Linked DNA regions of Homo sapiens. The protein of the gene in region 5 purifies or fractionates together with the protein of the main gene of each other region. This does not show direct contact. Each region holds a gene or a part of one and is shown on either strand. Other genes may lie near its edges. The genes, in order: GALNT2, VSIG1, AKR7A3, HK1 and ZMPSTE24.

What was found.
Region 1: the proteins of ZMPSTE24 (region 5) and GALNT2 fractionate together in Homo sapiens (co-fractionation; one large-scale study listed by BioGRID). This does not show direct contact.
Region 2: the proteins of ZMPSTE24 (region 5) and VSIG1 purify together in Homo sapiens (co-immunoprecipitation; one large-scale study listed by IntAct). This does not show direct contact.
Region 3: the proteins of ZMPSTE24 (region 5) and AKR7A3 purify together in Homo sapiens (co-immunoprecipitation; one large-scale study listed by IntAct). This does not show direct contact.
Region 4: the proteins of ZMPSTE24 (region 5) and HK1 fractionate together in Homo sapiens (co-fractionation; one large-scale study listed by BioGRID). This does not show direct contact.

The regions. Positions count from the first base shown.
Region 1 is NC_000001.11:230,245,226-230,248,746, reverse strand, and holds part of GALNT2 (polypeptide N-acetylgalactosaminyltransferase 2 precursor), read right to left. Parts: intron 2,685-3,521; coding exon 2,597-2,684; intron 1-2,596. UniProt on the Homo sapiens protein: Catalyzes the initial reaction in O-linked oligosaccharide biosynthesis, the transfer of an N-acetyl-D-galactosamine residue to a serine or threonine residue on the protein receptor.
Region 2 is NC_000023.11:108,065,564-108,069,084, forward strand, and holds part of VSIG1 (V-set and immunoglobulin domain-containing protein 1 isoform 2 precursor), read left to right. Parts: intron 1-1,372; coding exon 1,373-1,571; intron 1,572-3,521.
Region 3 is NC_000001.11:19,285,971-19,290,096, forward strand, and holds the start of AKR7A3 (aldo-keto reductase family 7 member A3), read right to left. Parts: upstream 2,801-4,126; 5' UTR 2,740-2,800; coding exon 2,526-2,739; intron 2,391-2,525; exon of another isoform or gene 2,090-2,390; intron 403-2,089; coding exon 215-402; intron 23-214; coding exon 1-22. UniProt on the Homo sapiens protein: Catalyzes the NADPH-dependent reduction of various carbonyl-containing compounds, including aldehydes, ketones, and toxic products from cellular metabolism or environmental exposure.
Region 4 is NC_000010.11:69,325,326-69,328,846, reverse strand, and holds part of HK1 (hexokinase-1), read right to left. Parts: intron 1-3,521. UniProt on the Homo sapiens protein: Catalyzes the phosphorylation of various hexoses, such as D-glucose, D-glucosamine, D-fructose, D-mannose and 2-deoxy-D-glucose, to hexose 6-phosphate (D-glucose 6-phosphate, D-glucosamine 6-phosphate, D-fructose 6-phosphate, D-mannose 6-phosphate and 2-deoxy-D-glucose 6-phosphate, respectively).
Region 5 is NC_000001.11:40,268,216-40,271,736, reverse strand, and holds part of ZMPSTE24 (CAAX prenyl protease 1 homolog), read right to left. Parts: intron 3,319-3,521; coding exon 3,202-3,318; intron 1,763-3,201; coding exon 1,610-1,762; intron 1-1,609. UniProt on the Homo sapiens protein: Transmembrane metalloprotease whose catalytic activity is critical for processing lamin A/LMNA on the inner nuclear membrane and clearing clogged translocons on the endoplasmic reticulum.

The DNA.
Region 1 (3,521 bases), about 190 Mb from region 5:
AGGCTTTGTCAGTTCCCTGGGCCAGCAAACTTCAGACTGTATTTGCAGCAAGAATGGAGTGGGAACATGCTGGGAATATGAAAACTTTAAGGGAAAATGAGCCAGCGGAAGTTGCCAAGCTGGGCAAATAAGCTTCAATTTCAGATATATTTGGCACCTGTTGCATTTCATTTTTGGAATCCACAGACCCCTGAGGATAGAAGAGCCTAGACCCTGTACCCGGACTTGGTTGTGGGCATCTGCAGGGCCTCAGGTCTCGCTCTTGCTCCCAGGGTCACACACATAGTGCCTCTTGGAGGCCAGCAGGCTCCACCTGCGGAAGCTGTCCTGGTGCATCAGGAGGCCACTTCTTGGCAAACACATGGCTCATGGTGCTGCATTTCCAATTCCAAGGGTCTGACAGCAAAACCTAATGACTCTAGGGCATGCATCTTTCAATCCTCTTAAGCTCTCTGCCATCAGGCTTTTTGTCAACAGGGCTTTTGCAATGCCTAAGTTTGGATTTGTCTGCATGCTTTGAATTCATAGTCTGTCCGCCCTGACAGCCCCAGTGACTGAAGGATGGCGGGTGAGGGTTTCTGAGTGTCCTGGGCTGGCCAAGAATTTATGGCTCTGGACAAAGAGGCCTCCCAGCTCCCTCACTGCAGGATAGAGTGGCCTCAGGCAAAGAGAGAGGGAAATGGACAGGGGCCCAGGCAGTGGGGACAGAAATGCACAGAGAGGAGACCCCTGCGGGCCCCTGAGCTGGCTCTTATCATGGTGCCTCAAAGGCCACGAAGGAAAACCAGAAAAACAATGTCCTGGCTGTTTCACTAACAGAGAAGGTTAAGGATTAGCTGACATAACCTTTCCTTTGTTTTTTTGATGTTTACTATTATCTTATTATTTATTTTATTAATTTGGTCCAAAGAGAGAGGCTATAGCAGATTAAAGATCTGTTAAGAATGGCATCCTTGATTTTTTTTCTAAAGGAATTTCATAAAATGCTCTTAGGGTGAACGTGGCCCCGTTCCTCTGACCCAGAAGACCTGCACCCCCACACGGAACACCTGGCTGTTCTTGCCCCTGCTCTGACATACGCAGCTGCTTTGGGAGAAATAGAGCCTGGTAGATCTCAGCTCTTCGAATACTTGGGGAAATACAACATTCTGAAAGCCAGGCTTTCTAGCTATCTAAGGATCCCTCCTCTTTAATGTCCCCAAACATTTTACTTCTCACCATTTGCTGGGAATCGTTCCTGAATGTTATGTTTCCCACCCTAGGTACAGTCCTCCAAGCATGCCCGCCCTCCCGCTGATGTCTAATTCCATTATGCCCTGTGTGGCCAGCACAATTATCATCCCATTTCCCAGAGGGGGAAGCTGAGAAGCAGAGGCAAAATGGCCTGCCCATGATGACGGGGCCTGCAAGAGGCAGGTGGGGCCAAAGCCCACAATGTCTAGGACCGTGGCTGAGTCTCCCTAAAAAGTCCAAGTATTCTGTTTTCTGGGGTTAAGGCTTGCTTGCACACATATGTGTGTGTGTATGAATAAGCAGGGTCTCACTCTGTCTCCCAGGGTTGATCGTGGCTCACTGCAGCCTTGACCTCCCAGGCTCAAGTGATCCTCCCACCTTAGCCCCGAGTAGCTGGCATGCCATCACACGCAGCTAATTTTTTTTTTTTTTTTTAATAGAGACAAGAGTCTTGTTATGTTGCCCAGGCTGGTCTTGAACTCCTGGGCTCAAGCAATCCTCCCACCTTAGCCTCCCCAAAGTGCTGGGATTATAAGCGTGAGCCACTGCACCTGGTCAAGGCCCTATTTTATAGTTTTACTGTCTTCTTTTTTGATGTTAGACCATCAGTTAACCCTCTGCCCAGTGTCTATCTAGAATAGTTCATCTTCACACAGATGAAAGCTCTTTGAGGTCTTTGATAATTTTTAAGAGGGTAAACAGACAAAGTGCTCTTGGGGCTCCAGGGTGGGTGCGGTGAGGACATACAGGAAACTGGTGTGGTCATTCCAACGGAAGGGGACCAGGGTGATGTAGGCACAGGTGTTGGGCTGGGAAAGAGGGGTACAAGAAACCATGATACATGCAAGGGGCTGTATCAGCAGAACAGGGTCACACGTGGGCTTGGTGAGGGCGAGGGGGTTGAGGATGACACAGGTCTCCATCTGAGCAACCAGAAAGAGACCAGGCTGTCAGAGAAATAGCCAGGGTGAGCAGAGAAGGCAAAGACAGGCTCCAGCCCCTTGAATCCCACAAAGCCTCAGCTCCGTGAAGCTTCTCACCCCAGATTCCTGCAAGGAGGGCTTCATCATCTCTGGTCATAAAGGACGCCATATCTGTTCATGGAACCACATGGCTCGCAAAAGTGACAGAAGGTCAAGGAAGAGGAGAAAGGGAAACCCAGGAAGCTCTTTAAGGGAGCAAGCCTATTTTTTTTTCTCTTTATGAAGTCCTACTCGTTAAGCACACAGGTGGTTTTTACTCAGAACACACACTACGGCGTGAACACTGTTGTCACTGTCACTCCTGACAATGAGAGGGAGTGGTGATCAGATGCTGGTGTAGACGGGACGAGCTAGGCAGGGGCACCATGACAGACACCTACCGCCCTTCAAGTCAGCAGATGCCCCCACATACTGAAAGTTGTCCATATTAATGACATCGATGATGGGTGACACAACCCGAGTCCTGTCCTAAAATACAAAGAGAGGAGTAGTTATCAAAATCCCAGCAAAACAAAAAACCTGCCCAACCACAGAAGGCATTAGTATTAGGCAGGCACAGGGCAAACCCAACTGGCCCTTACTACCTACTACCCTAGGCCCTCAAGAACCCAGCCTCCCCACCCAGACCCAGAAGGTCTTGCTCTTGGCCATCCACAGATGTGCTGTGGCCTGCTGGGAGGCAGGGAGGGAGGTCAGGAGTGGGTGCGTAGCAGGAGTCACTCTAGGAGTGGAGACACCCATGGTTATGGGACAGGTAGCCATCAGTTCACCCAGCTAAAGGCAAAAACTGTGTTGCTGTGTCCCAAGGGTCCTTTTCTGTTTGCCCAAATACCATTAGTGATTTGTGAGCTGCAGTAAACTTCAGGAATGGAGTCACTGCTAAAATGCTCATACATCAAAATTAGGAATATATTTCTATGTGGGAGTGTGTGTGTGTGAGAGAGATGTGGTAAGTATCAATATTATCACAGCAGAAGGTTAACCAAATCAACCAGAGATTTCCAGATTCTACGTTTGCCTCATCTGTAATTCTATCTTTTTTGTTTTTTTGTTTTGTTTTTTTTTTGAGACGGAGTTTCACTCTTGTTGCCCAGGCTGGAGTGCAATGGCGTGATCTTGGCTCACCACAACCGCCGCCTCGCGGGTTCAAGTGATTCTACTGCCTCAGCCTCCCAAGCAGCTGGGATTACAGATATGCACCACCACGCCCAGCTAATTTTTGTATTTTTAGTAGAGATGGGATTTCTCCATGTTGGTCAGGCTATTCTTGAACTTCTGACCTCAGGTGATCTGCCTGCCTCGGCC
Region 2 (3,521 bases), on a different chromosome or scaffold from region 5:
TAATCCAGTGATTTCCCAGCTTCAGTCATTCATGTACCATCTACATGATTTTTGTCATATTTGTGTATCACCAGCACTATTTGTTATTTAATGTTATTTTCTGTATTGACTTGTTTTCTTAAAATCTTAAAAAATATCTACCTTAATCTACCCTATGCAACAATATTCAGGAAGTCATAGATTTAATGTGCTAGATTTTTCTGTTTCTAATACACATTGAAATTTGTAAGTTTTCATTTATATACTACCTAAAATCAACTTAAATGCCTATACTTGGTAAATACATATCATACTTTGGAAAACATTACTCTCTTTTCTCATTCAGATGTGGAAAGTAAAGGTTGGAGAGATTAAATAACTTTGTTTCTTATCTAAAACCAGGCTGCCATGGAGGCATGACTAGAGGCCACCTCCCCTAACTATATCACAGTGAGGGGCAGAGCTGTGACTAACTCAAGCCACCTGACCCCTAGACCAGGACCCTTTCCACCACATCATGCTGCTCCCACAGTTGCCATTATGATCTAAGTATCTATGCTCTTTAATAGAAATGGGACTAGAATCCAGATCTTAAGTTTAATAAGTTATAATAATAATAAATGAGCCCTTGTGGCTTCAGATGGGTCACTTAATCTCTCTGGGTCTGAGATGCCTTATTTGTTTAAATGACAGAAGAATTCCAGTTCTGCCTTCTGCCACATGGGGAGAAAGATGGTAGCTATCATTGGCTGAGCACTTCCGAGGTCCTTTACTAGATTTCTTAGTTTCATCTTCACAACACCACTATAAAGGGATGGGACCAGATGATTTCTAAGATGCTTTTCCGCTTTGCTTCTAATAAACAAAACAAACCCAAGTTTGTCTATCCAAAAGAGTAGGTGTGTCTAAAAGGAGCATGAACATTTGAACATTTAAGGAAACCAGATAGTCTCACTGGGTAAGGTAAATTCAAATTTTAAGAAGTTTATAAAATGGTAAAAAAAAAAAAATGATGGTTTTGGTTTCCCATCAGACATTTGTGTTCTACATAATGAGTTTCTCTCAGGTGGATTCATTAAGTGAGCATCTTGATCTCCTAGCCCAAGCTTAGGTGTTGAATCCTGTCAGCTCCAGCTGCCTCCTCCTCTGTAAGATAGGCATACTAATCCCTGCCCTGATGACATCACAGAGCTGCTCTGAGGGCCAAATGCGCAGCTGTGAGCAAACTAAAGTGCCCCACTGAGTTGAGAAACCTTGGCCACAGGGACCTGTTCCTGGTGGGGGGAAGATGCTGCTTCTTTATCAAAGGTAATGTGTTTAGAAGAAGCTTTCAGGTAGCTTATCCTAGTCCTGGACTCTCTCCAGTTCTCACTTCTGTTATTTTTCTGTCTAGATTTACTTTTCTCAAGGTGGACAAGCTGTAGCCATCGGGCAATTTAAAGATCGAATTACAGGGTCCAACGATCCAGGTAATGCATCTATCACTATCTCGCATATGCAGCCAGCAGACAGTGGAATTTACATCTGCGATGTTAACAACCCCCCAGACTTTCTCGGCCAAAACCAAGGCATCCTCAACGTCAGTGTGTTAGGTATGAGCACTTTTTTCTGCTTTTTCTTTTCTTGGAAAAAGTTAGGACACTGAATGAGCCAGGACAGTGAGTTATGATGCCAATTAAGTCTCTGTAGGTAAATATACTCCCTAATATTTTCATTATCAGGGAAATAGAGACAAGCCACCAGCCCAACCAAAACAGTAACACTGAGAAATCACTCATAAAACATGCAGAACAATTGTGCAAACGGGCTGCCAAAATGACAGCAGTAGATGACCCAACCTCCAGTGATCCCTATCTCTGAGGGATGGAATGAGAACAGATGAGACAATCCACTGTCCCACAAAATGATCACTAGCAACTCTTTTAGAGGAAACCTCCATTTACAGCCAGATCTACCTGGGGGAGACTACTGTCAACTTATTATTCCTTTTAAGCTCGACACAATTCCCACCATTAAATTATTCTTTTAAATAAAGACAGGAGAGTCCCTTTTTTAAAATGCTAATGTTATTTGGAAAAAGGACTGAAATTAATCTAGTGTTGAGAATCAACATATTTACATACAAATATTCATTATATGATATTGGGCAAGCCGTATCTGCTCTTAAAATGAATTTGGAATCTCATTTGTTCAGTATTTATTGAGTTACAGTGATGGAGGTGTTGTTTTTGCCCTTGGGAAGCTCCCAATTTTGGCCATTTCTAGAAGTCCTTACAATCTCTGTCTGAGAGGACAATGTGGGCTAAACTTCCATCTGCAGGCTGGTATTGGGAAGTATCGAAGCAAGGGATGAAAGGGCTGCCAATCCTCAACTCTTACAGACAGACCAGTTGAGATGAGCATTTTCCCACTTCTAGGTAGCCCCAAATGAAGCTGATCTAGTCATTGCTGCTCTCAAGCTGTGTGCACACATCACAAGAAAGGAGGAACTACATCAAATCAGTGACTTAATAGTTGAGTAGCTTGGAAAAGCAGCAATTGGTAACAAGGTGCATACCCAAGAGAACTGTTTACAGTTGTCCTGGCTTGCCACTCAGGTAATGCCACAAAGGAACCAGCTGACATTTACTGTGAGGTTTGCCACTGCATCTACCCACCTGGGAAAGAGGGAAAGGTACCTAAGAGCTATTTTTTAAGAGTGGGTTAGCTTAATCAATCATATTTTTATCTTACTGAGTTCTGTGCCAGGAATTGGGGTACAGGAACAGACAAGAGAAGTATTACTCAAGCAAATTCCTGGGAGAGTTTCTGTTTCAGTTTGGAAGACTAGTGTATTAGTCTATTCTTGCATTGCTGTAAAGAAATACCTGAGACTGGGTAATTTATAAGTAAAAGAGGTTTAATTGTCTCACGGTTCTGCAGGCTGTACAGGAAGCATAGCAGCTTCTTGGGAAGCCTCAGGAAACTACAATCATGGCAGAAAGCAAAGGGGAGGCAAGATGTCTCACATGGCTGGAACAGGAGGAAGGGGAGGGGAAGATGCCACACACTTTTAAACAACCAGGTCTTATGAGCACTCATTCACTATCACAAGATCAGCACCGAGGGGGAAATCCGCCCCCATGATCCAGTCACCTCTCACCAGGCCCTATCGCCAAAATTAGTGATTACAATTTGACATGAGGTTTGGGTGGGGACACAGATCCAAACCATATCAACTAGTTAGTTATATACATGGGAACTAAGTGATGTGCTATAAATGCCAAAGCATCAAACTGGCACTCAGAAGACCTGAGTTTTAGATCTTACTCTGTACTCAGTGACCTTATACAAGTCAGTCCACCTTTCTCTGACCATTGTGAGATGGGGTTATAATTTCTGCCCTGTCTTCTTTACAGGTTTGTTATGAACAGTTTTGTTATTTTACCTATAAAATGAAATACTGGAGATCAAAGGGGTTTTTAAATGTTCAAAAACTGGAGGGATTAGCTAATGATTTTCTGTTGCTTCCTGGTTCTGGGATGTTCTGACCAGAAACAATC
Region 3 (4,126 bases), about 21 Mb from region 5:
GGCCAAGCTCCACGAACTTGCCCTGCTCAGGTGAGGCTCCAGTCAGAACATAGTGCAGCCCAGACCAGGAAAGGGAGGCCAGGGTGGGGCCCCTGGGAGTTGGGCTGTTCCCTGCTCCACCCTGGAACAGCCCTGGTGCCTCTGCTCTCACCATTAGGATCAGGATAAGGAGAGCAGCAGTGGACCACCTCCCAGAGCTCAGGGGTCCCCTCACCTCCTGGTGCAGCTGGTGGCAGGCACGCAGTGTCTCTTCCACCGGGGTGCTGTGGTCTGGCATATGCAGGTAGAAGAGGTCCACTCGGGGACACTGCAGCCGCTTCAGTGACGTCTCCAGCTGGAACCGGAGACTGTCAGGCTTCAGGGAGTTCCCAAACAGTGGAATGGCCTTGGTATCAATTTTCACTGAGAGGAAAGAGAAATGAAATTCAGGGCCAGGCGCCGTGGCTCATGCCTGTAATCCCAGCACTTTGGGAGACTGAGGCAGGCAAATCAGAAGGTCAGGAGTTCAAGACCAGCTGGACCAACATGGTGAAACCCCATCTCTAATAAAAACACAAAAATTAGCTGGGCATAGTGGAGCCCGCCTGTAGTCCCCAGCTAGTCCGGAGTCTGAGGCAGGAGAATTGCTTGAACCCGGGAGGCGGAGGTTGCAGTGAGCCGAGATTGTGCCACAGCACAATGTCTCACAGAGTGAGACTTCTCAAAAAACAAACAAACAAACAAAACAAACAACAAAAAAAAAGAATCTTAGTTCCTAGTGAACTGGACTAACAGGTGAGTGGAGAGTCCTCTTCCCACTTTTCACACTTAGAAAGTCACCTAGGCTGGCAGGAGGGCAGTCACTGGAGCCCTTGAGGCCTAGCAAAGAGCAGGTTTGAGGAACTATTCATATGGAATTTTTCCATTCCACCACCACCCCTCTGCTTCTCAATTGAATTTAACTTCAGATCAGATCTGAGGACTTTCGCCAGCCAACCTTGGACTCAGACAGAAGACAAAGAAGGATTAAAAAAGGAAAGAAAAAAAAATCAGAAATAAGGGCCAGGCAGAGGGTACAGATCTGTGGTGGCTCACACCTGTAATCTCAGCACTTTGGGAGGCCAGAGCAGGAGGATCACTTGAGCTCAGGGGTTTAAGACCAGCCTGGGCAACAAAGTGAGACTCCAGTTTCAATGAATAATACAAAAAATTAGCCGGGTGTGGTGCTACTGTAGTAGTCCCAGCTACTCAGGAGACTGAGGTGGGAGGATGGCTTGAGCCCTGAGAGGTCAAAGCTGCAATGAGCCCTATCGCACCACTCCACTCCAGCCTGGGCAAAAAAGCAAGACCCTGTCTCAAAAAAAAAAAAAAAATCAGAAATATGGTTAGAGCTCTCACTGAGTGGCAGCCGGGTGATCTAGAAAGAGCGTGGCACTGGGATGCACGCACAGGCCAGGTTCGTTCTGGATCTACCATGTGGTGAATCAGAGGAGAAATAAGACTCCACTCAGACACTCAGTGGAAGGAGGCAAATGGTGCTAATACTAAGAACAAACAAACAGCTAACATTTCCCAGCCCTCACTATGTGCCTGCCAGGCATCGGCCTAAGCACTGCAAATGGCATCAGACTGAGGGCGGCTCCTCCTGCCCCTATACACACATCCTCCCCTCCGGCCACACCTGCCTCCTCCAGCACCCGCGGCATTGCCAAAACACATTTGCCTTTCCACACCCATGCCCACTGCCCTGACGCCCTTGCCCCTTGTACTCTTCCTGGCAAACTCCTATCCATTCTTTCTTCACGGGGTCCCTCCCAGGAAGGGGTCACTCTGGGCTCCCCAGCCATCTCTAGAACTGGAGCTTCCTGGAGTGGGTTAGTGTCCATTTCTCTCCAATAGCCTCCGACAGAGCCTCCCACAGAGAGGGCAGTGAGACTCTGTACCACCCCAATCCCTCATCCCCCTGAGGGAGCTGCCAAGGCTTCCGGGCACTGCCACCCTTGTGAGGTGCCCTTGTGAGTACCACAAGGTACTCAGAGCAAAGTCCGGGGCCCCGAGCAGGCTGGCATGTGCAAAGGAGGAAGCAGATAGTGTGCTGGGTCCAAACTCTGATTTTGGACTGTGCCAGGGAGTGCCAGGCGGTAAGAACAGAATTTCTGCAGATCAGGCCCGTCAAGGGCACCTGGAGGGCACAGGTGGGGACAGGAGCTGCACAATGCCAGATCCCAGTGTTTTTTGTGCTCCAGAGAGGGGCTAGCCAAGTCATTCCAGGCAAGACCAAGTCATCCAGGCGTCAGTGAGGGTGCTGGCTACCTCCCGGAAGAGAAGAGAGACGAACAGAAGAGAAGACGAGAGAAAAGTTGTCCGGAGCTAGACGTGCCTAAGGAGCCTGGTGTTCCCAAGGCTGCGAGGTGAACAGGGGTGGGGGCGGTGGGGGGGACAAAACTTTGGGTGCTGCCCCGGGGCCAGGGAGAGCGGGGCGGTACACGGCTGTGGACAGGCTCAGCTCTGCACCGTGCAGGGGGAGGATCAGGGGCCACTGTTACCTCTGCAGTCGCTGCCGCCCAGCCGGAGCCCCAGGCCGCCAAGGATGGTCTCGGACTGGCCCTCGCTGTACACGAAGGCCGTGTCTATCTCGGTGTGGCCGCGCTCCAGGAAGGCGCGCGTGACTGCGGCGCTGGTGGGCGCGTCCATGCGGCGCCCCATCTCCATGGCGCCCAGCACCGTGGCTGGCCGGGCCCGCGACAGCTGCCGGGACATGACGGCGGCAACGGGAGACTGTGACAGCCCAGGAGCCGCGCGCAGCGGTCGGAAGCACCAGGCTCGGAGCGGGCGGCCTCGTGGCTTTAGAGACGGGCTCGGGCCCCGCCCACCGGCGGGTGCAGCTGAGGGCGCGGCCGAAGGTGCCCGACGCCGCCCACGAGCTCGACTCCACGCTCGGCTACTAGGACCTTCTGCACTTGCACCGAGCAAGCAGCGAAATGGCTGTGGCTTCGTACCGGTGACTCGCGTCTTGGAGATTTTAACACTCCTCAACGTCCCCAAGGGTGAGGGGGTCCAAGGGTGGCGACTATCCCAAAAGGCGGGGACTCTTCGGGCCTCCCTGCCCCGTCGTCCCTCCTTCCTCGGCCTTGCCCCGGAGCTGTCCTGGGTTTCTGTCTCCTCCCGGAGGGAGCGCTTACGGGGTGGGGTGGACCTAGGGCTGTCGCGCCTGCCGTGTGGTCCTGGAGAATGAGGCTTACCAAAGGCTCAAGACAGCGTCCCCATGGAGTGACATGGTTAAAGTGTTGAAAGAAAAGAACTGTTGGCATTGAATTCTGTACCTAAGTGAAAAAAAACTGACTGGCTCTGGTGACTTAACGCCTGTAATGCCAACACTTTGAGAGATCAAGGCAGGAGGATCACTTGAGCCCAGGAGTTTGAACCCAGCCTGGGCAACATAGGGAGGCCCTGTCTCAAAAGAAAAAAAAAAAGATAGAAAAATGGACCAGTGCCCAGCGGCAGTGAGCTGTGATAGCTCTACTGCACTCCACCCTGGGTGACAGAGGGCAAATCTGTCTCCAAATACAAAAGAAAAAAAAAGACCAATAGACAGATGGAACAAATGAAAAACCAATAGCAAAATTGATTTAAACCCAATCATATCAATAATTACATAAATATAAATGATGTAAATGCTCACAAGTAAAAGGCAGTGATTGTTAGAATGGATAAAAAAGCAAAACCAAACTATATGGTAAATACCAGAAAGCTATTCAAATATAAAAGCAGAGATAGTTTAAGAGCAAAAAGATGGGAAAAGACATACACTGACAAAACTAAATTTTAAGAAGTTGGAATGGCTAAGTGAATATCAGACAAAGTAGATTGCAAAACAAAGAATACTGGCCCACACAGTGGGTGACATACTAGCCCACACCTGTAATGTTAGCACTTTGGGAGCCTGAGAAGGGAGGATTGCTTAAGTCCAGGAGTTTGAGACTAGCCTGGGCAACACAGGGAGATCTTATCGCTACAACAAAATTTTAAAAATTATCAAATTGTGGTAGCATGCACCTGTGGTCCCAGTTACTTGGGAGGCAGAGGTGGGAGAATCATCTACGCCTGGGAGGTCGAAGCTGCAGATTGAGACCCTGTCTCAAAACAG
Region 4 (3,521 bases), on a different chromosome or scaffold from region 5:
AAAAAAAAGGTAGATAGTGGTTGCCAGAAGCTAGGTGGAGGAAGAAATGGGAAGTGACTGCTAACGGGTAGTTTTTTTCGGAGGGTGATGAAAATATTCTGGAATTAGATGGTGATGGTGCTCGGACAACCTTGTAAATCTATTAGAAACCACTGAATTGTACACTGTACAATGATGCGTTTCATGGTAGGTGAATTATAACTCAATTGAGAAAATAATAAAAGCAGGAGCTCTGCCATCAGCCTTGATGAGGCTGAATGCTGGCTCTATCGTTCACTATCTGGGCCTCACCGTCTGAAATCACACCCACCTCACAAGGGCGTTGTGGGGATGAACTAAGCAAAGGCTCACGATGCCTTTAGCACAGTACATGGCAATGAATACAACAATGAATGTTGGCTTTGGTTCATATGAGTACTAGAAATGATTAAATAAGACCCCTGCTAAGAAAAAGAAAAGCCGGGCGCCTAGTAGGCACTGAATGCCCCCTTCCCTGTAAGGCACCCTCGAGGTCTCCGAGTCTGGAGCCTGTAATCAGGCATAGACTCAAGATGAACATGAGCCGACATTTTCTGCCTCGCACAGGGACAGCTCAGCTTCTGTGTGCAAAGGGCTGAGCCGCCGACTTCACGGTTCAGTTTTCCCTGCCACGTGGGTACAGCCACCCTCTCCTTTTACGGAAGACGGTCTGAGAGGCTGCTGGCTTGAGTTTTCTCTGAGCAGAGCTGGGCACATTTACGCAACAGATAAGCCTGCCCTACCCGGGTCGGATCCACCCGGGAAGAGAGAAAGTGTGTGCAAGTGAAAGCTCACAAATGTGTGTTTCAACTCCCAGAAAAGCTTAACGGAGTCAGCCCACAGCACCAGGGGCCATGGAGAGCCATCCTAAGCCTTTCCCTGCATCAACTATCCCTCCCCAGTGCAGATATCTCAGCAGCAGCAGTCCATGGAGCTGTCAACTTCAGTCCGTGGGACTCTGAAGCAAGGACTCTGATAAGGTAACTCAGGAAATGGGCTAATTTTAAACACAGCTCGAATACTGTGATGTGAATGGAAACAACTGAGGAAGGAAACAGACTAAAACTCATCTATTACAAATTTGCAAAGGTTTGACCATAACAAGGGTTGGTGTGGAACAAAGGCAACCTGCACATACTTCCGATGGGAGTGTGAACTGGCATGACCACGGATGGCAACTTGGCAGAATCTCGTATATGGGAAAACGCACACATCTCTCCGCCTGGTGATCTCAGCCCTAGGTACACAGCTTAGAGCCTAGAGAAACTTGTGCATGCGCTGAATGAGTTGTTCTAGAGAAAGTTCACCAAGGCATTGTTTGTCACTTGAAACATTAGAAACACAAATGCCTATCAAAAGCAGAATAGATGAATTAACTAGGGAGCTTTTATACTCTGTAAGAAACCAGAGCAGTTTAATGAAACAGTTACGTAGATCAACATTTTTAAAATCTCAAAAATACAATGTTGAGCTAAAAGAAAGTAAATGGCGGAAGGATACATACAGTATAGCACCATTTATAAGAGTTTAAAACTGGCTGAGTGTGGGGGCTCAGGCCTATAATCCCAGAACTTTGGAAAGAGGCCTAGGCAGGTGGATCACTTGAGGTCAGGATTTTGAGACCAGCCTGACCAACATGGTGAAACCCCGTCTCTACTAAAAATACAAAAAAATTAGCCAGGTATGATCTCAGCTACTCAGGAGGCTGAGGCAGGAGGATTGCTTGAACCCAGGAGGCAGAGGTTGCTGTGAGCTGAGACCGTGCCACTGCACTCCAGCCTGGGCAACAAAATGAGATTCCATCTCAAAAAAAAAAAAAAAAAAAAAAGTTTAAAACCACACAAAGCAATACCATATATTGCTTAAACACATAGTCAGTATAGCACCATTTACAAAAGATCAAAACCATATATCTATAAAGCAATACCATATACTGTTTATAGACATATGCATATGTAATAAAAGCGTAAAAACATGCATGAAAAGATAAACACCAAATTCAGGACAGAGGTCACCTCCGAAGGGAGAAGCAGCAAACTATCTCAGAGATGGCATAGAAAGGGCTTCAACTGTGTCTGTAATGTAATTGTAATTGTGTCTATAACTTCTCAAGCTGAGTAGCAGACTCAGAGGTGTTTATGTGAACCTCAATCTTCTTTTATGTGCCTCAAATATTTCATAATAAAAAATTAACTCAAATGTATTGATTTGTGAGGGGACAGTATTAAAATACAGGTTCCAAGGTAAAACATTAAAATCAACAAGGACAGGTTTTTCTCCTAAAAGAAGGAAACAGAGGAAGCAAGAAGAGCCCTCTGAATCCTATTCCTGATTTTCTTTCGACCTTAGAAAAATGTTTTATCTCCTCTGGATGGGCCTTCAGTCTCTGTTTCTAAATGGGGAATAAATTGCTTGCCTTCTGTCTGCAACACACAAGGCAGGCAGCAGGATGCCCTGGGGAGGGAGCCGTGCTGGGAAGCCCGGGAATAATACTTCCTGTACTGACAACCTCGCTGAGGCTTTTGAAAGAGCATATGAAAGCATACACACACCTACACATATGTTAGTATAGTTGTGTGCAGAAACATTTATAGTGTAATCTCAATTACATATATATATAATTCATACCCGACATGACACTCACGAAGTGTTCCAGGATGCCCAGAGACAAAAAGCCATTAAAAAAAAAAAAAGCGGCCAGGCGCGGTGGCTCACGTCTGTAATCCCAACACTTTGGGAGGCCGAGGCGGGTGAATCACGAGGTCAGGAATTCAAGACCAGCCTGGCCAACACGGTGAAACCCCGTCTCTACAAAAAATACAAAAAATTAGCTGGGTGTAGTGGCAGGCACCTGTAATCCCAGCTACTAGGGAGGCTGAGGCAGAAGAATCGCTTGAACCTGGCAGGCAGAGGTTGCAGGGAGGTGAGATCGTGCTACTGTACTACAACCCAGGCGACAGAGTAAGACTCTGTCTCAAAAAAAAAAAATGCAGTCCAGAGGCAGTAGCTGGCACCCGTAATCCCAGCATTTCGGGAGGCCAAGGCGGGCAGATCACTTGCGGTCAGGAGTTTGAAACCAGCCTGGCCAACATGGTGAAACCCAGTCTCTATTTAAAATACAAAAATTAGCCGGGCATGGTGGCAGGCGACTGTAATCCCAGCTACTGGGGGGCAGGGGGGGGCACTGAGGCAGAAGTATCACTTGAACCCGCGAGATGGAGGTTTCAGTGAGCTGAGATCACACCACTGCACTCCAACCCAGGATACAGAGTGAGACCCCATCTCAAAAAAAAAAAAAAAAATGCAGGCCAGGAGCATTGGCTGGTGCCTGTAATCCCAGCTACTCAGGAGGCTGAGGCAGGAGAATCGCTTGAACCCAGGAGACAGAGGTTGCAATGAGCCGAGATCACATCACTGCATTCCAGCCTGGGCAACAGAGCAGAACTCCATCTCAAAAAAAAAGAATAAGAAAATACATGGCCGGGTGTGGTGGCTCACACCTG
Region 5 (3,521 bases):
ATAGTAAGAGCATAATATCTGTCTGATGAATTAAATTGAAATGAGTAGTCTGATAACAGAGTAAACTTATGAATTTTATTTTAAAGGATAATGCTACTAACAGTGATTAAAATCTCTAGGTGGTAATAAGTATAGTCCTTTCAAAACTATCTTGGGGATTTCTGATGCTTCATGAGTCAATCATAACACGCAGTTCTACCTTTTAGCGTAATCACAATAGACCTGAAGTCTTTCCCAAAAAAGAATTAGTAGAACTTGATTGTGTGCTGTTACTTGGTTGGCTTATCAGCTAAAATTAATTACCTGTAGTTCATAATTGTACAATGTGGTTGAAATAGCACTTCCTTAAGCATTTTTAGAGCATTTTCTCTGCTCTTTTTCATCTTACTTTAATTTGCCATACAATAGATACCTGTAAATCCAACTAGCGCCCATTTTCTGATCTTGATCCCATCAATGGAAAATGAAACAATGAGCATTATGTAATTCAGACTAAAATAAACCTCAGCTTGGGCATGGTGTCACACACCTGTAGTCCCAGCTACTCAGGAGGCCAAGGCAGGAGGACTGCTTGAGCCCAGGAGCTCAAAGCTGTAGTGCACTATGATCATGCCTGTGAAATAGCCACTGTACTCCAGCCTGGGCAACACAGGGAGGCCCTATCTCTAAAATAAAATAAACCTCATCAGTGGAGCTGAAGAGCTGATAGATGATAATTTCTGGGTGCACTGAACAGACCACTTTGGGTTTTTTCATTTGGGTTTTTTAAAAATTATTATTTGTAGAGACAGAGTCTCACTGTGTTACCCAGGCTGGTCTTAAACTCTTGGGCTTAAGCAATCCTCCCACCTTGGCTTCCCAAAGTGCCAGGATTACAGGCATAAGCCACTGTGCCTGGCCCTGAACAGACCATTTTGACTGCGTTGTAGTGTTTGTGTTGTGAAGCACTTGAGAGTATGGAAAGAGAAGAGGAATAGGAGATGTGAGGGAGGGAAAAATCAGGGGGAAAAGAGTGAGAGGGAAAAGGAAAGGAGAAGAGAGGCAGGAATAGGTGGCAGTTGGGGAGAAAAGGGAAGACAGGAGAAGGAAAGGAAGAAGAATGGGTAAAAGATAGAAGGGGAAGGGGAAGCAGATGGGGCAAAGAAGGGAGAGAGTGTCTAACGTGGAAGGGAAAGGCAAGGGAAGGGAAGCAGAAGAAAGCCAGTTAAGTATATGCTTTCTTTCTCTTGTCCCTCTTAAATCTCATTTCTCTTCAAAATAACCATGATTTTAGGCAGTGGAGGTCAGTCAGGAGTCATTAAATTATCACACTTAGTCATTCTGGTGGCAACTCGCAAATGCACAACCCAAAACTGCCTGACAACTGAATCATTAAAAGTGACTAACAACTAGTTTCTATGACCTGAAGAGTTAGCATAAGGAGAAGGAAATTTATGGTCAGTCAATACTCCTGTGTCTACAATCAAAAGCAGAAACCAAGGGGGAAATGTATATAAGCACCTATTTATATTTCAGCTGCTTCTTAAGAACTGTTTACATGCCAATGAAGATTACAGTAATCTCACCAAGGAACTTTTGCAAAAGAAAACGAAATAAAGATTTTACTCACCAGAGACACAACTAATGTGAACAGCCAGGCATAAATAAAAAAATAGTCACCCCCAATTTTAATAATGTAAAGTAGAAGTGAAGACACAGGCAACAAAATACACTGAGTCACAACAAATTTCTTGATTGCATCTTTCATGAAGAACCCCAAAGTCTGCAAAAAGAAAACATTACCACAAGAAACTGAGAAACTGGTTCTGCTTTTTAAAATAACTGATAAATAAATACAAAGGATACATTATTAAAGCAATTTTTAAAATTAACATGCAGTGAAACTATATTATATGACATTAGGCAGCTTAAGACAATGGGTAAATGTCTTGCATTTTACAGCTGAAAATTCATTTAAACCTTATTAACTGAGGACGAGTGCAGTGGCTCACAACTGTAATTCCAGCACTTTGGAAGGCCTAGATGGGAGGATTGCTTGAGCCCAGTAGTTCCAGGCCAGCCTGGGCAACATAGTGAGACCCTGTCACTACTAAAAATAATAATAAAAAAATTAACCCAGTGTAGTATAATTCATCTATAGTCCCAGATACTAGGCAGGCTGAGGTGGGAGGATTGCTTGAATCTGGAAGGTCGTGGCTACAGTGAGCCATGATCCTGCCACTGCACTCCAGCCTAGGTGACAGAACGAGACCCTGTCGCAAACAAACAAATGATTAGTAGCTGAAAAACAATAGATATTAGTGCTAAAGGAGTTTATAACATAAATTTCTTTTTTTTTTTTAAGAGACAGGTCTGGCTCTGTTGCCCAGGTTGGAGTACAGTGGCACAATGATGGCTCACCGTAGCCTCAACCTCCTGGGCTCAAGCAATCCTCCTGCTTTAGCCTCCCAAGTAGCTGGGACTTCAGGTGCATGCCACCACAACTGGCTTTTAGAATTTTTTTGTAGAGATGAAGTCTCACTATACTATCCAAGCTGGTCTTGAACTCCTGAACTCAAGTGATCCTCCCGCCTTAGCCTCCCAAAGTGTTGGGATTACAGGCGTGAGCCACTGTACCCAGTCAAGACTTTTTTTCTTTCTTTTTTTTTTTTTTTTTTTTTTTTGAGACGGAGTCTTGCTGTCACCCAGGCTGGAGTGCAGTGGCGAGATCTCAGCTCACTGCAAGCTCTGCCTCCCGGGTTCACGCCATTCTCCTGCCTCAGCCTCTCGAGTAGCTGGGACTACAGGCGCCCACCACCAAGCCCGGCTAATTTTTTGTATTTTCAGTAGAGACGGGTTTCACGGTGTTAGCCAGGATGGCCTCGATCTCCTGACCTTGGGATCCACCCGCCTCAGCCTCCCAAAGTGCTGGGATTACAGGCATGAGCCACTGGGCCTGGCCTTAAGTATTTTTTTTTTAAAATCAGTGTTGACCAGGTTGGCCTCGAACATGTAGCCTTGCCTCCCCGAGTGCCAGGGCAACTGGCCAGAGCCACCGCGGCCCCCAAGACTTTCAGCTATGATCTTTACCATATCTGTAGTTCCCTTTTTTCTCAATTCATACTCTGAAATAGTAAATTATGTTTAAATTATAAACAGTACAGGACAAAAGCACAGAAGTTTTTCACATTTAAAAGAGAACATTTGTATTCTTTATTATACCTGTTGATTGAAGCCATGTTTTTCTTCTATCACAAAAGTATTATAAAGACTCCATGGCAAACCAGTCAATGCACTGAAAAGTGTAGCCAACAGCAGAAACACCAGGGACTGAGTGATCTAAACAAAAGAAAAAACAAAAATCCAGTTTTTATGAACTACTGGCAAACAAATCAACAAGTATTTGCTGAGCACTTACTTACTACATCCCAAGCAATATGCTTGATTCTATGGATAACATAAGGTCTGAAATATCATCCCTGCCTTCAAAAAAGTTTACTTTTGAGAGAAGTAAATGAGAAACAAAACAATTCCTTTTTTAT